2 linked regions of the Homo sapiens genome follow. The protein of the gene in region 1 interacts with the protein of each later gene in a pairwise test. Each region holds a gene or a part of one and is shown in the gene's direction. Other genes may lie near its edges.

The links. Proteins that work in one complex are often made in the same cells at the same time.
Region 2: the proteins of PLEKHA2 (region 1) and M1AP interact in binary tests that used the Homo sapiens proteins (3 or more experiments, as listed by UniProt).

The regions. Positions count from the first base shown.
Region 1 is NC_000008.11:38,896,969-38,904,348, forward strand, and holds the start of PLEKHA2 (pleckstrin homology domain-containing family A member 2), read left to right. Parts: upstream 1-4,377; 5' UTR 4,378-4,477; intron 4,478-4,795; exon of another isoform or gene 4,796-5,101; intron 5,102-7,380. UniProt on the Homo sapiens protein: Binds specifically to phosphatidylinositol 3,4-diphosphate (PtdIns3,4P2), but not to other phosphoinositides. May recruit other proteins to the plasma membrane.
Region 2 is NC_000002.12:74,561,315-74,568,337, reverse strand, and holds part of M1AP (meiosis 1 arrest protein), read left to right. Parts: intron 1-5,914; coding exon 5,915-6,121; coding exon of another isoform or gene 6,122-6,184; exon of another isoform or gene 6,185-6,764; intron 6,765-7,023. UniProt on the Homo sapiens protein: Required for meiosis I progression during spermatogenesis.

The DNA.
Region 1 (7,380 bases):
GCAGTTTGAGCAATCATTCTAGAAATGGATGGTACAGAACTATTCATACTTTGCTATCAAAACCCATAGCAACTATTTATAAAATGACTGGCTAACATTAGAGGTGCAGTGTATAGCCCTGGAGCAATCCATCTCTGTGCAAAATGAACTGGCCTGAGCCAGAATCAAACCAATGACCTTGGCCTCTTTGGCCCCACACTTTCCCTAATAGAACTAACTGGCCCCAGCTGCAGCCTTATGTAATGGGTATCTATGAGGACAGAACAATAGTTCCCTGCAGGGTACACTGGCTCACCACTGGAGGTTGTTAGGTTATCTAGCTAACCAGCCATTAACATTGAAAATGAATAGAAAGTACATAAATAAATGCTTAGAGTAGTGCATAAGGTTTTCTGTTGAGATTCTTAGGTTCTAGGCCAGAAGTTTTCATCTTGGTGGCAAGGTTTCTATACCAATACTAGAAGATTCTAAGGTAGTCAACTCTGGGTTCTAGAACCAACTCTGCCACTAACTATTATAGCTTCAAAACCTTGAGCAAATTGTTGAGCTTTATTTTACCTTGGTACAACAAGGGGGCTGAAATAGCTCACATGAAACGTCCTTTTTTGACATTCCTTTCCCCACAGGTACAGTCACATTCTCAGACATCAGGGCTGTTTATTGCACTGAACAAAATTAAAGTATAAAATTAGGCAACAGCAATACTGTACTTTCAAAATGTGTCAATGAAGTGATGGCAAAAGTAAACATAAGAAGCTAGACACAGCCAGGTGCGGTGGCTCACGCCTGTAATCCCAGCACTTTGGGAGGCGGAGGCGGATGGATCACTTGAGGTCAGGAGTTCGATACCAGCCTGGCCAACGTGGTGAGACTCTGTCTCTACTAAAAATACAAAAATTAGCCGGGTGTGGTGGCGCAGGCCTGTAATCCTAGCTACTCGGGAGGCTGAGGCAGGAGAATCGCTTGAACCTGGGAGGCGGAGGTTGCAGTGAGCCAAGATCATGCTGCTGCACTCTAGCTTGGGCAATAGAGTGAGACTCTGTCTCAAAAAAAAAAAAAAAAAAAAAAGCAGCAACAGCAGCTAGACACAGAAGGCCACATATATATGATTCCACTTATATGAAGTATCAAAAATAGGCAAATCTGTAGACTGGATGGAAAGCAAGTTAGTGGTGACCAGGGGCTGGGAGAAGAGAAGAATGGGAGGTGACTGCTTAATAGGTATGGCGTCAACTTTAGAAGCCATGAAAATCGGTTGGAACTAGACAGTGGTGAGAGTTGTACAACATTGTGAATTTACCGAATGCCACTACATATACACTTTAAAATGGTAAAATTTATGTCATGTATACTTTATCACAATAAAAAAGTGTCCCCCCAAAAAGAGAGAAAGGGATGGCAAAACATAGCAGGGCACAGACTCACTTGACGCCTGCTTCAAGGTGACATGAGAGGAGGGTGGGGGTGGGGGTCCCTCTGAGGAAGCCCTGGGAGATCCAGGAATAAGAGAGTGGACATTAGTGCAGGATTTGTCATCTAACTGGGGCCAGGTCCTGGCCAGGGACAAGTGTAGCAGTAAATGGGGCTCCAGTGAAGTATGAGCATCTCCCCGAGTGCACTGATGATGACCTTCCCTCAGCCCAACATGTTCCTGGCCTCCTCCCACTGGTGTCAAACTGTATCCATCTAAGTCCCATTTCAAAGCCCACTCCCTTCTTGAGCTCCCCCACCGTCCCCCCCCACCCCCCATCCCCCATTCAGAGACACATTTCCCTCTTTTTTATTTATTTTTTTTCTGAGACAGGTTCTCACTCTGTCACTCAGGTTGGAATGCAGTGGCATGATAATGGCTCACTGCAGCCTCAAAATCCTGGGTTCAAGTGACCCTCCCATTTCAACCTTTAGAGTAGCTGGGACCACAGGTGCATACCTGGCTAATTTAATATTTTTTATTTTTTGTAGAGATGAAGTTTCCCTAGTTGTCCAGGCTGGTCTTGAACTCCTGGACTCAAGGGATCCTCCTGCCTTGGTTTTCCAAAGTGCTGGGATTACAGGTCGTGAGCCACTGCCCCTGGCTATATCTTGTCCTTCTAAAAGTTGACAGCACTTACTCTCTGTGCCATTCCCAGGGCACAAGCCTGCTTCAGCCTTCTAGAGACACCTGTATTCTCTTGCCACCCAAGGCCTTCTGCTTCTCTTTGCCTCCCAGCATCCAAAACAGTAGTGCTCAGGAAATACTTGTGGCTCTGTGATGGAGTGACTCAGGCAGCCCCACGGGGAGTAGAGTTTTATGAGTTTAATATGAACCATACCCTGAAATCTGAGAAATTTACCTCATTGCTCATGCTGGAAACCCTCAGTTCCAGTCGGATTTGCTTGGAGCTGGATGGAATTGTGTTGCTTTTCATACTGAAAATGATCATCTAATTTTTAAATTTAAAAAACATTTACGTAGCACCTACTTCACGTTCGACAGGAATCTCAACACTTCACAAATGTTAACTCACTGACTTTTCCTAACAGAGGCATTGAGAAGTTAAGTAACTTGCCCAGGGGTCAAAGCCAGTAAACGGCAGAGCTGGGCTTCAAATCCAGGTTCCTTGCTTCCAGAGGAGATGCTCTTCAGTTTGTTCTGGTGCCTGAAACTTACAGATGAGTGGCAAAACCCTCCATGAACGGGGAAAAAAAAGACATTGATGTATTTATTTCAAGGGAAATGTGTGTGTGTGTGTGTGTGTGTGTGTGTGTGTGTGTGTGTGTGTGTGTTTTGCCCATCGTCCCCCTTTTCTTCCTCATTGAAAGCAAAATGCTCTAAAGCAAACAGTCTTTTTTCACACCTGAGACACCGGCGGTGTTCATTTTTGCTTTGGCAATCAAAATGGAAGAGGAAACTTGTGTGGTTTCATCACTGGTGCTTTCGGGGTGTGTGGGGCGGGCTGTCCTTCTCCCTCGGTCCTGGCTCATCGGCCCGAGCCCCCCTCCCCAGGCCTTGTGGCCTCCGGTCGGTCGTGGAGACATAAGAGGCCGCCTTTCCTCTGTTAACACCGGGAATGTGCCCCAGCCTCTCCCTCCTTCCTGCAAATCCAGTCCTTGTCCTGGAGAACCTCAGCGTCTTCTTATGCCTGCCTCTTTCAAAGCCTCGTAGGATTTACACCTGATTAACAACGTTTGCATTAGGATCGCCAGACACCGGCGCACGGCCCCGCAGGCCCGCGCGAATCTTCTACATTTTCATGTTTCGGATGTTGTCCACCTGACTTGATGCATATTCAAATGTCTCTCTCCCGACGTGGGAGGCCGGAGTCAGAACCTGACAGACCTGCCGTTTACTAACTGGGTACCCAGGGCAAATTACTTCACAAGTCTGAGTCTCGGTTTCCTCACCGTGAACCGGACTGGTACCCATAGGTTGCGGCGTGGATCAAATGAGATAGCGCAGGGGCGGGACCCGCGCACAGCAGCTCTCTTAGTTCCTCTTGGCGAGGTTTACGTAGTAACACATGCTTGTCTGTTTCCCATTTTTTCCCAGAGCACCCTCATGCTCTGGGGGCAGGAAGGGAGTCTTCGCATCACACCGAAAAAGTCCCAACGGGCACGGTGTAGGCGCCTGTGGTCCCAGCTACTCGGGAGGCTGGGGCAGAAGGATCGCTGGACCCAGGAGGTCGAGGCTGCAGTGAGCTATGACTGCGCCACCGCACTCCAGCCTGGGCGACAGAGCCAGACCCTGTCTTGATTAAAAAATAAAATAAAATAAAGAAATTAAAGTCCTTATAACCCTGGTTAGAGCGTTCCCGCCCACTGGTCTCTTAGGGCACATTTAGGACAACCTGAAGAAGCCACTCTTCTTGGGACCCTAACCCTTACCCCAACTCCTCGGTCCCCAAAGGCTAAGGGCTCGGGATCCGAAGGAGGCCCAGCTGAGGTCGCTGGGTGGGGCTCTGGGAGGAGGAAATGGGGTTCTTGAGGGAGCTCGCGCTCCAGCTCGCCTCCTCCTGCGAGGACGCCCCCTGCCCGGACACCTGCTGCCCGAGCGAGCGTCGGGGCCGGGCCTCCCCGCGGGGCAGTCTCGGCGCGCAGGTCCCACCTGCCAGGCGCGGAACGCGGGCGGCCTCGGGCGCAGCCTCCGGGCGCCCCGCCCCCGCCTCCCCCGCGCGGCCCCGGCGCCCGGCCGCACCCCCTCCCAGCCCGCGGCGCCCCGGCACCCCTCTCCCTCCCCGGCGGGCTCCGCGGAGCATTGTACTCACATCCGGGGCTGGGTTTTGCTTTAATGCGAAACGTAATTAACCCGGAAAAAAGAGCCGAGGGACGGGAGAGAAGGAGGGGGCACTGGGGGAGACCAGAGCGAGGGGAGCGAGAGGCGCGGAGAGTTTGGCAGGCAGACCCAGAAATCCCTGGAGCGCGGCGGACCCGGCGGCCGGAGGGGCGACCCCGCCCGATGTAACGCGCCCCGCCCGAGCCCCGGCCCCTGCACGGGGGGGTAAGTTGGGCGCCCTCGCGGGCTCGGGAGTGGAGAGGCGCAGAGGGGCGCGCGGGGGCTGGCGGGGCTGGGGGTGCAGGGGGCGCCCCGGCGGAGGCCTGGCGGCCTAGGGGCGCGAGGGGCGCGCGCGCAGGGCTGAATACGCCGGTCCTAGTGGCTGACAGGCGAGGGGAGGTGGCCGCAGACCCTGGAGGCCTCCTCCAACCCTCTGGGAGAGCCCCGAGGGCAGCCCCTCCTCCAAGTGCCCCGGGTGGCCAAGGTCGCCGCCGCCAGGGGTCGGGCTGCGGGGGGTGGGGCCGCGGAGAGGGTGGGGGCGGGAGTTCTGCTGAGCTGCATTTTCTCACGTTTGCAGCAGCGAAACTTCTCTGCGGGTTCTGGCGCTGGGGCACCGACCCCGCAACGACTGCCCGGGCTGCGGGAGGGGAGGAGAGCAGAGAACGTCCCCAGGCAAGTCCCTTGGGTACGGATTGGGCCATGGAGACTCCTCTTTCACTCCCCCGACTACCTTATTAAATGACAGGCCTAGAAGGCTCCCCTAGGGACTCCTGTCCTTTCCTCTGGGTGCAGCCTGGACTTCGGGCTTCTGGAACTCCAGACAGTGAAAAGGACTGCCCTAAAATGCAGGTTCGGTGCCAGGTTGGGTGAGCCCTCGAGGGGAGCTGTCGTTCTCTCTCTCACCAACTTCTTCCTCACCTTACACGCTTCCCTTTTCTCCTCCAGTCCTAAAGACGATTTCACCAAAATTTTTTTAAAAAGAAAGAGAAAAGAAGGGTGTGGGGGGGGGTGGTGGGAAGCTAGGCCGTTTAGAAGGGAAAAGTGTCCCTGCACGCCCAGAGAGGGGCGCAGGGCCCGCTGCGGCCGGAGCACCCTCACATCTCCTCCCCGGGGCCAGCCCTGCCCCCAGGCCCTAGCCTTAGGGTTTGGCTTCCTTCCTTCTTGGTGAACGCAGGTTCAGGATGTATCTTCCCCTTCTCATTCCTTCTTCCTGCCCGCCCCCTTTCTTTCTTTAGGGCTCCAAGTGGGGTTTTCAGAGGACAGTAAACGGCAGAGAAGAGGGAGGGGAGAGCACCCCACCAGAAAGCCAGCTGTGGCTCTGGGGGCTCTGAAGGCTGAGCTGTAGATGCACTTGGGGCTGAAGTCCCAAGATTGCACTAATGGTGTTCTTAATCTATCTGACCAAGTCCCATTTTCCCTTCTTTTGTCATTTTTTTTCTTTGGTTGCGAAGCCTTCCGAAACAGCAAAGCAAAAGATCTTGAAAGAATAGAAGTTTTTGCTTTCTATTTCAGTTGCATTCAGTTGACATGTATTATACATGCAAGGCAGTGATGAACAAAACACAACCCCTGTCTTTATTTTTTCTTTTTCCTTTACCTCTGGAGGGCTGGACCCTGTCTTTGGCGAGCTTACAGGACTTGTAAGCCCCCCACTTGTTTTGAGAAGCCAGAGTAAGCTTTTAGAAAGCATCATCATCATCTCAGACATTAGCCCTCTTCACCATGTGCCGCCTGAAGGCAGATGACTTTTGCACTATCAGAGGTCTAGCTTGTAGTCTAGATTATGGCCAGCCCAACGTATGACATGTACCAGGTGCTAAGTAAATGTTTATTGCATTAATGAATGAATGCAAACACATGAATTGTTTGCACTTGTCCAAATGGCAGAGAAAAGAGCAGTGTGGTTGTTCCTCAAACCTGTAGGGATTTGGTTCTCCAAGCTGGTACATGGGAGTTATTAGTCCGGATGTTGCCTTTACACCTAAGTATCCTTTGACCCTGTTTGTACATTACAGCATGCTTTCTACAAATTGTCTATGGCACTCCTAGTGGGGTTTTAGCTAGCTGGTAATGGGAGCCTTGCTCATTTCACAGATTGGTAATTACCTTGGTATTGATTGAGAAACTGCCTGCCCTTTGGTGAAGAGTTTTTGCAACCCTTTCTTTTTCCTTGTCATTGGTGCTTTCTTCTCTCTTCTGTGTTAAGGAAATAGGGCCTGCAGATCCCATCATGTCATGGTAGTGAGCTGAACCATATTCAGCTCGGTATTTTTGAGTGGTTAAAATAAATCTTGAAGACATGCAGGTTTTGGTTGGTGCAGGTTTTTGTTCTGCAGAAGTGGGAAGGGGAAGGCTGATGAGCCCTATCAGCTGAGCCCCAGAGCAGCCCTCCCACTACCTTGCCAAGTGTTTGCCGAAGTGCTAGGATACTAGGAAGACCCAAGCAGCGTTGGTCTCCTGTCCAATTCATGGGACAGATGGACAGGTGGGTGATGCCCCTGCTGAAAGGCTGGATGACTCAGATGAGAGCTTGCTGCAGACCACAGTGCATCAGAATATCTCTTCTGATTCACGGAAACTGCTGTGGCTCGACTTATTCCGGTTGTGATAGACCTAGGGCTTGGAAAAGAGGATCTGGGTGCTGGGACGTTGGGTTGCTCTGCCCCCTCTCTTTTTCCACCATGAACAGTTTGGGTTGCCTTACTTTCCGTTTTCCATCTGTCTCAGTGAGCTGGATGGGACTCCAGCAATCTAATCTGGTAGGCTTTGGAAAGGAAGGAAGGAAAGCAAATATTATAGTGTGTTGGCCTATGGGAAGAGAAGAACCCTGGCCCTGCCTGATATGAGCCCATTATTGAGATGGGGTATTGGACAGGCGGGGGAGATAGGGCAGCTGAGAGGTGGGAGGGATGCGGCCCCATCCTGTCAGTAGAGGAGGCCGGGGGTTGGTGTAGTGAGACCCTACTGTTCCTTCTGAAAGCCCCTTCCCTGCCCTGACCCCAGTTGACTGAAGTGATTTGTTATGCATTAAAGCCGGAATTGGGCTTTCTCACTGTGGAGGTCCCAGCCCTGCTGGGGCAGGGGCTCCTGATATTGCCCAGTGTGGGCAAAAGGCTTGGGGGCTTTGG
Region 2 (7,023 bases), on another chromosome or scaffold:
AGCTTTTCCGATTGTTCTAGGCAGGAGAACCAGTCTGCCTCTGGCCACTGTAACCCACTTAGATGCAGAAGTAGATGTTTATTAAATGCTCATTTATTCCCCCTTTGCTATCTGTTCAGACATAACAGCACATCTTCTAAGTTCCCCTTAGCCAGTTGGCCGGCTTCACCATGTTTTCATTTTCAGGCTCCTGGATTTCCTTACAAGTGTGGGTATTGCTCAGTTTATTCAACCACTGCCTCTTCACTTGCCCTTAAGTCGTAGTGATTAGTGCCAACGCACCAGTCCTCGTCGACTATAAATGTTGTGTAACTTTTCAAATTACATTTTACACATACTCTAAGCCTTAGTCAATCACAGGCTTGTTATTTCATTCCCTGATTTTTCACTTGAAAATTGTTTCTGTCTTCCTCACAGATTATTTTGCTTTATTCAGGTATTTCACTTGCTTTTCCTCAGAAAATGATCACTTCATCAGATAGGCAAGACTTTTCCCAGTCTTTTCTGAAAAATATGTGTTGTCCACCACTCCCGTAAATGTCACTCTTAGATTAATACAGACCACAAGAAAGCTATGTGTTTTGGCAGCATTCTTTGGAGCTTTTATAGATCTATATCTAAGAATTATTCACGTATTTTTAATTTAACAAAGTTAAATAAACATTCATAATTAAATGTAGTTTTCATTTTGAAAAGTTAACACTTCATGGTGCTTACCATGTACCTGACACAGTTCTAAACACTTCACAGCTACTAACTTATTTTATCCCCATAACCATTCTATGAAGTAAGAATTATTATCCCTGTTTTACAGATGAGGAATTTGAGGCCCAGAGAGTAAATGGTAGAGTAGGGATTGAAAGGCTGGCTTCAGGCCCCAAACTCTACACCACTCTACAGCTACATGAAATTTATCAGCATATTGATTGCAGGAGTGCTCTGAAATATATTCACTACTCAATAAGAAGCCACAGACAGCTTCTCCCACATTTTATATCAGGAAAGGCTATGGGGCTCCCTTCTAGCAAAAGTGGATGGTTTGTATTTCTGTGAGCTTATCTAATCCTGGCTGTATTATTGCCCTACTTTTATTTTTCTTTTACCCAGTCCCCTTAATTATTTATTTTATCTTTTTATGCTGTTCCATTTTTCTAAACTGGCATAGCTGTTTTGTGGAATGTGGTAGGAAATAAATATATAAATAAAATTAATTTTTTCCAAGTCTTTATGAGATCAATCTATCCATTGCCAGGAAAATATCATTTCTATTACCAAATCTTGCTGTATAGTCCTAGTTATGTAGCTAGTGACTCACTTTCCACATCCTCATTTCAATTACAAAGTCATGTCTGTGTGAACTAGAAAAAGAAATGAAAATACCACCTAGGTCTTTCAGTTTCCTACTTAAAATGTCAGAGTCTCTGGAGACACATTCCAGAGCTTTACAGTCCATGTCTGCCCTAATTGGCCACAGAAGTTACAGGATTCAAGCCATGATGTGTTCAGCAGGAGTCTAAGTACACAGGCAATGAGCCAGTTGGGCTATAACTGGGTGGGGAGATGGAAAGTGCTTGGTTAAATAGGCAAAGACTCAAGACCAAGAATCCAAGCTGAGAGTGGGGTGATGGCAGGTCAGGAGCCATTCGAGAACAGAATGATGGAGGTTACAGTGTAGCATCTGGGCGGGTGGGGGGGATAGACAGGTGCTAGAACAGCAGCCTAGCGTGAGTCAGTGGGCTTCCTGTGACCTAGCTTTGTCTGTTTCTCTTGCTTCATCTTTCACCTACGCCCCTCGCATCTTCCCCCCAGTCACACTAATAAATGACTGAATGTTCTCCAAATATGCTGAACTGTTTCACACCTCCACACCTTTTTTCATGCTGTTCTCTTCCTTTTGCCTCTGTCTACCTGACAAATATCTACTCATTTTTTTCCAGATCCTGCTTAAATAATTTCGGTATGAAGCCTTTCTTGCCTCCACCACAGCCTATCCCCATTCATCTTTCTTGCCTTTCCACACCCATGTACTTGTTGCCACATCTATCTAGACCTTTTGCACCATAGCTCTCTGATATGAGAAATGTCACATTACTATATTTTTCTAAATCAAATTTAGAAAGCATTGGTTCCCAAGGGCCAGGATGTTGACACACGCAATATCTTCATGGGTGCCTCTACCCCTAGGATCATACCCAGAATCCAAAGAGCTTAACACAGTACAGAAAATGTGGAAAATGACCTTCTGGTCTTCAGCACACCTCCCAGGACAATAGTGAATAGAAGTAGCAAGAGCAGACATCTCTGCCTTGTTTCTGATGTTAGAGGCAGAGAATCCACTCTTTCACCACTACATATGAGGTTAGCTGTGGATTTTTTTATAGAGGTTTTTATCAGGTTGAGGAAGTTCCATTCTACTCCTAGTTTACTGAGCATTTTTATTATGTAAGGGTGTTGGATTTTGCCAAATGTTTGTGTGTGTGTGTGTGTGTGTGTGTGTGTGTGTGTGTGTGTGACGGCATCTCACTCTGTTGCCCAGGCTGGAGGGCAGTGGTGTGATTTCGGCTCACTGCAACCTCCGCCTCCTGGGTTCAAGTGATTCTCCTGCCTCAGCTTCCTGAGTAGCTGGGACTACAGGCACGTGCCACCACTCCCGGCTAATTTTTGTATTTTTTTAGTAGAGATGGGGTTTCACCATATTAGCCAGGCTGGTCTTGAACTCCTGACCTTGTGATCCACCCACCTCGGCCTCTCAAAGTGCTAGGATTACAGGTGTGAGCCACCACGCCCGGCTGCCAAATGTTTTTTCTCCATCTATTGAGATGATTATGTAGTTTTTGTTCTTTATTCTGTTAATATAGTATATTACATCAGTTGATTTGAGGGTATTAAACCAGCCTTAGGGATAAATCCTACTTTGTTGCAGTATATAATTCATTTTATATGTTGCTAAATTTGATTTGCTAATATGTAGTTAGGGTTTTTGTATCTATATTAATAAGAGATATTGATCTATAGTTTTCTTTTCTCATGATGTCATTGTTCTGGCATGGTTCTGTGTACCCACACCTAGTGCTTGGAACATAATAGGCGCTCAATAAATTCTTTTTTTTTTTTTGAGATGGAGTCCCGCTCTGTCGCCCAGGCTGGAGTGCAGTGGTGTGATCTCGGCTCACTGCAACCTCCACCTCCCGGGTTCAAGTGATTCTCCTGCCTCAGCCTCCTGAGTAGCTGGGATTACAGGCATACACCACCATGCCTGGCTAATGTTTTTGTATTTTTATTAGAGACCGGGTTTCACCATGTTGGCCAGACTGGTCTCAAACTCCTAACCTCAGTTGATCTGCCCGCCTCAGCTTCCCAAAGTGCTGGCATTACAGGCGTGAGCCACTGTGCCTGGCCTGAATAAATTCTTAATAGACAAAAAATTCACAAGTAAATGCACGAATCAATGTAAAAATAGAAGATTTAAAATAATACTAATAATCCAAATCCTGAGCCCCATCAGAAGTTACTTAAGCCAACTGAAATGGAGTCCCCTGAAACTTCCTGGTTTCTATCCCTTCCAGGCTTAAACAGGCCATGTCCTCAGAGCAGGGGCAGGTCCAACCCACAATCCACATACACACACACCATGATTTGTATACCATTTATTTCCAACATGATGGATTTTAAGCATCAAGCTGACTTTCCTGCACATTTGGATTTGTTCTTCAGGAAGACAGCACATCTCTAGATAGAAGCAAAATGCTAAGAAAGCATGAACTTCTGAAGGCACGCATAAAGCTCTTGGCACAGTACCTGGTGCCTGATAAGCATTCCTTTAAAGTTTGTAATTATGATTATGACTAATTTTCCCATGCCCAAATCATCTGTCCCACCCCCAAAACCTTCTAGTGAGGATGCATCATGCCTCCCGAATTATCAGTCAAGTCCTACCCCACAAAGAGGTCAGCAACCGCAGGAATGGTACATACCTGTTTTTCTTGGAGCTGTTAACAGGTTTCCTACCACTTGCTGTGCCTACCAGACCTCCTCAGAGCTCCGCACTGCACAGAATGATGACACTGCTTTAAAGTGCAGAGCCTCCCCTACACCCACCCCAGCATGTGTCCCGTGGGGTCTAACTCTCATGCTACAGCAAGTGTTTTCTGTCTCACTGTGTCACTTTCTATTTGTCTTCCACAAGACACTGATAATCCTCTTTCCTCTAAAAATCTTTTCCCCCTTTTTGCCTTTCCTCTTTTATTATTTGTCTCAACTTTTCATATAAGAGTAGCCAGAACTCATGTGTTTTCTTCTATCTTATGTAGCAGGGAGGTTGTTACGGTTTGTACCAGATGTAACTGAAGATCACCCCCAGTAAGAGGACACAGTTTGAGATGATTATGATAGTTCTAACTCCATATTTCCTGGAGTTTTGTGTTTTTTGTTGAAAAGCTACCACAAAAAAAATTGCCTCATTTTCATGGCTCATTTAAAAGGGTACATCTACAAAATCTTCTCAGAAGTCTGGTTGTCTCTTCTTCTTACCCATGCCCTAACCTCTGCCATCACCATGGCACATGGCAAAGTGCCACCCTCTGTTCCATAATAACCCATCATCCACAGAGGCACTGCCCCCAGAATCCTGACTCTTCTTGTCCTGTGATTGGCTGAGATGATCTCAAGGGCCCTGCACCCACCCACCTCTCCCTCTGCTCTTTCTTTATGTTTTTTTTTTTTTTTTTTTTTATGTTTTGAGACAGAGTTTCGCTCTTATTGCCCAGGCTGTAGTGCAATGGTGCAATCTCAGCTCACTGCAACCTCCACCTCCCAGGTACAAGCAATTCTCCTATCTCAGCCTCCCAAGTAGCTCGGATTACAGGCATGCGCCACCACGTCCAGCTAATTTTTTTGTATTTAGTAGAGATGGAGTTTCACCATGTTAGTCAGGCTGGTCGAGAACTCCTGACCTCAGGTGATCCACCCGCCTCAGCCTCCCAAAGTGCTGGATTACAGGTGTGTGCCACCGCTCCCGGCCCTGCTCTCTCTTTCTCCTCCCACTTTGCAGGCTGCTTTCACTGCCTTCTCTCTATCTGTCTGTCTATCTATCAATCATCTATCTATCTTTATTTATTTAATTTTTTGTAGAGTCTTGGTATGTTGCACAGACTGGTCTTGAACTCCTGGGTTCAAGCAGTCTTCCTGGCTTGGCCTCCCAAAGTGCTGGGATTACAGATGTGAGCCACCACATCTGGCCTTACTACCTTGTACCCTCTCTGGACATTCCAGGGATACTGCCCAGTCAGCCCATTCTAATCCCAGTTGTTAGCAAACAACCAGACTTTATTACCCTCAAAAGAAGAACTGAATTTCTACAACAGACAACACCCCATACAAGTCTTGGTTTCAAGACACTGCTTTTTTCTTTTTCCTTTTGAGACAGAGAGGGTCTCACTCTGTCACCCAGGCTGGAGTGCAGTGGTACAATCATGGCTCACTGAAGCCTTGATCTGCTAGGCTCAAGGAATCCTCCCACCTCACCCTCCTGAGTAGCTACGGGTACAGTCACGCACCATGGGCTTCAAGACTCTGTTTTTAAGAATTATAATTCTTAAAAGTCCACATGTATGCTGAATGTGGTAGGCCCCTCTGGGATGAACACCTACTTCAAGTTACAGGGAATTTCTTAACTTTTCTCTCCATTGTTGACCCTTTTATATACTCTCTCTGGCATATCTCAAACCAGGGAGGAAGAGTAGTACATTGTGATATTGATGATTCATGCAGGAAGTCCCTCCCTACCAGGGCCGAAGTTAAATGGCTCTGCCCTCCTCAGCACCCCTGGAAGTCAGGGAAACTTCAATTGGGACTGATCCTCAAACCATGCCATAGACTAAAGATGAACCAGTATTTCTGTATGTCCTTGTTTCAGAAAAGGGAATGGCTGCTGTTAGCCAAGGGGGAACCACCGGGCCCAGGACACAGCCAGAGAATTCCTGCCAGCACCTTCTATGTGATCATGCCGTCACACTCCCTCACACTGCTGGTAAAGGCGGTGGCCACGCGGGAACTGATGCTGCCCAGCACCTTCCCCCTGCTACCTGAGGACCCACATGATGATAGCCTTAAGAATGTGGAGGCAAGTGGAGCCCAGATCTCATGGGACAGATCTAGAAGCGAATGGAGTTTGAGAAAGGGATGAGGGAGAGGAGTGAGCCCATGAGGGAATGGATGCGGAGCTGAAGGAGTGTGGTAAGAGAGTAAGAAGAGAAAGCAAGGATAGGCAATTATGCCAGAAGAAGGAAGTAAACACTTAGATTATGGCAGCAGGGTAAGGAGTGAAATAGAATGGAGGGAAATGAGGTTTGAGAACAAAAAACTGGGAGAGAAAAGGGATATTGGCATCAGTGATGACTGGGAATTAGAGCCATCCTGGAGGACACACGACATGCACACGGACCTGAAATCTGAGGAATGGGTGGCTGTGAAGGAGAAAAGGGAGCATCACAGAGTGGAAACCTGATGTCAGGCCAGGGCACAGGGAGGCAGGGGAGGAAGCCACAACACCAGCAGGTCCAGCTCCTGGGGATGCACTGGACGCTTGTTTGGTTTGGTTTTGTCTTTGCGCAGACTGGTTCTCCTGCCCCCACCTCCTCCCCAGAGAGGAGATTGTGAAGTTAGACAAGGGAGAGCAGAACTTTGGGAGGGAAAGGAAAGAAGACACAGTGGAAAGCAGAAGAAAAAAGAAGGGAGAAGGGAATAAAAGGAGACCCAAAAAATCAGCCTTTGTATGGGTTTTCGTGTCTTTGTGTGTTTTTGTGCCCGAGTGTGTCTGTGGTTGGGTCTCTAAATTGGTGGCAGTGGGTGTAGATGCGCCTGTGCACATCTGTGTGCTGGTGTGTTCTTAGGGGTCTGTCTGCATTGCACGTGTGCATATGTGTATACCTGTGTTTGCGCTCATTTATGTTTGTTGAGAAAAGGCAGCCAATGTAGGTGCCCAAAATAGGAAGGGCTTCAAGATGAGATGTGATAGATGCAGAT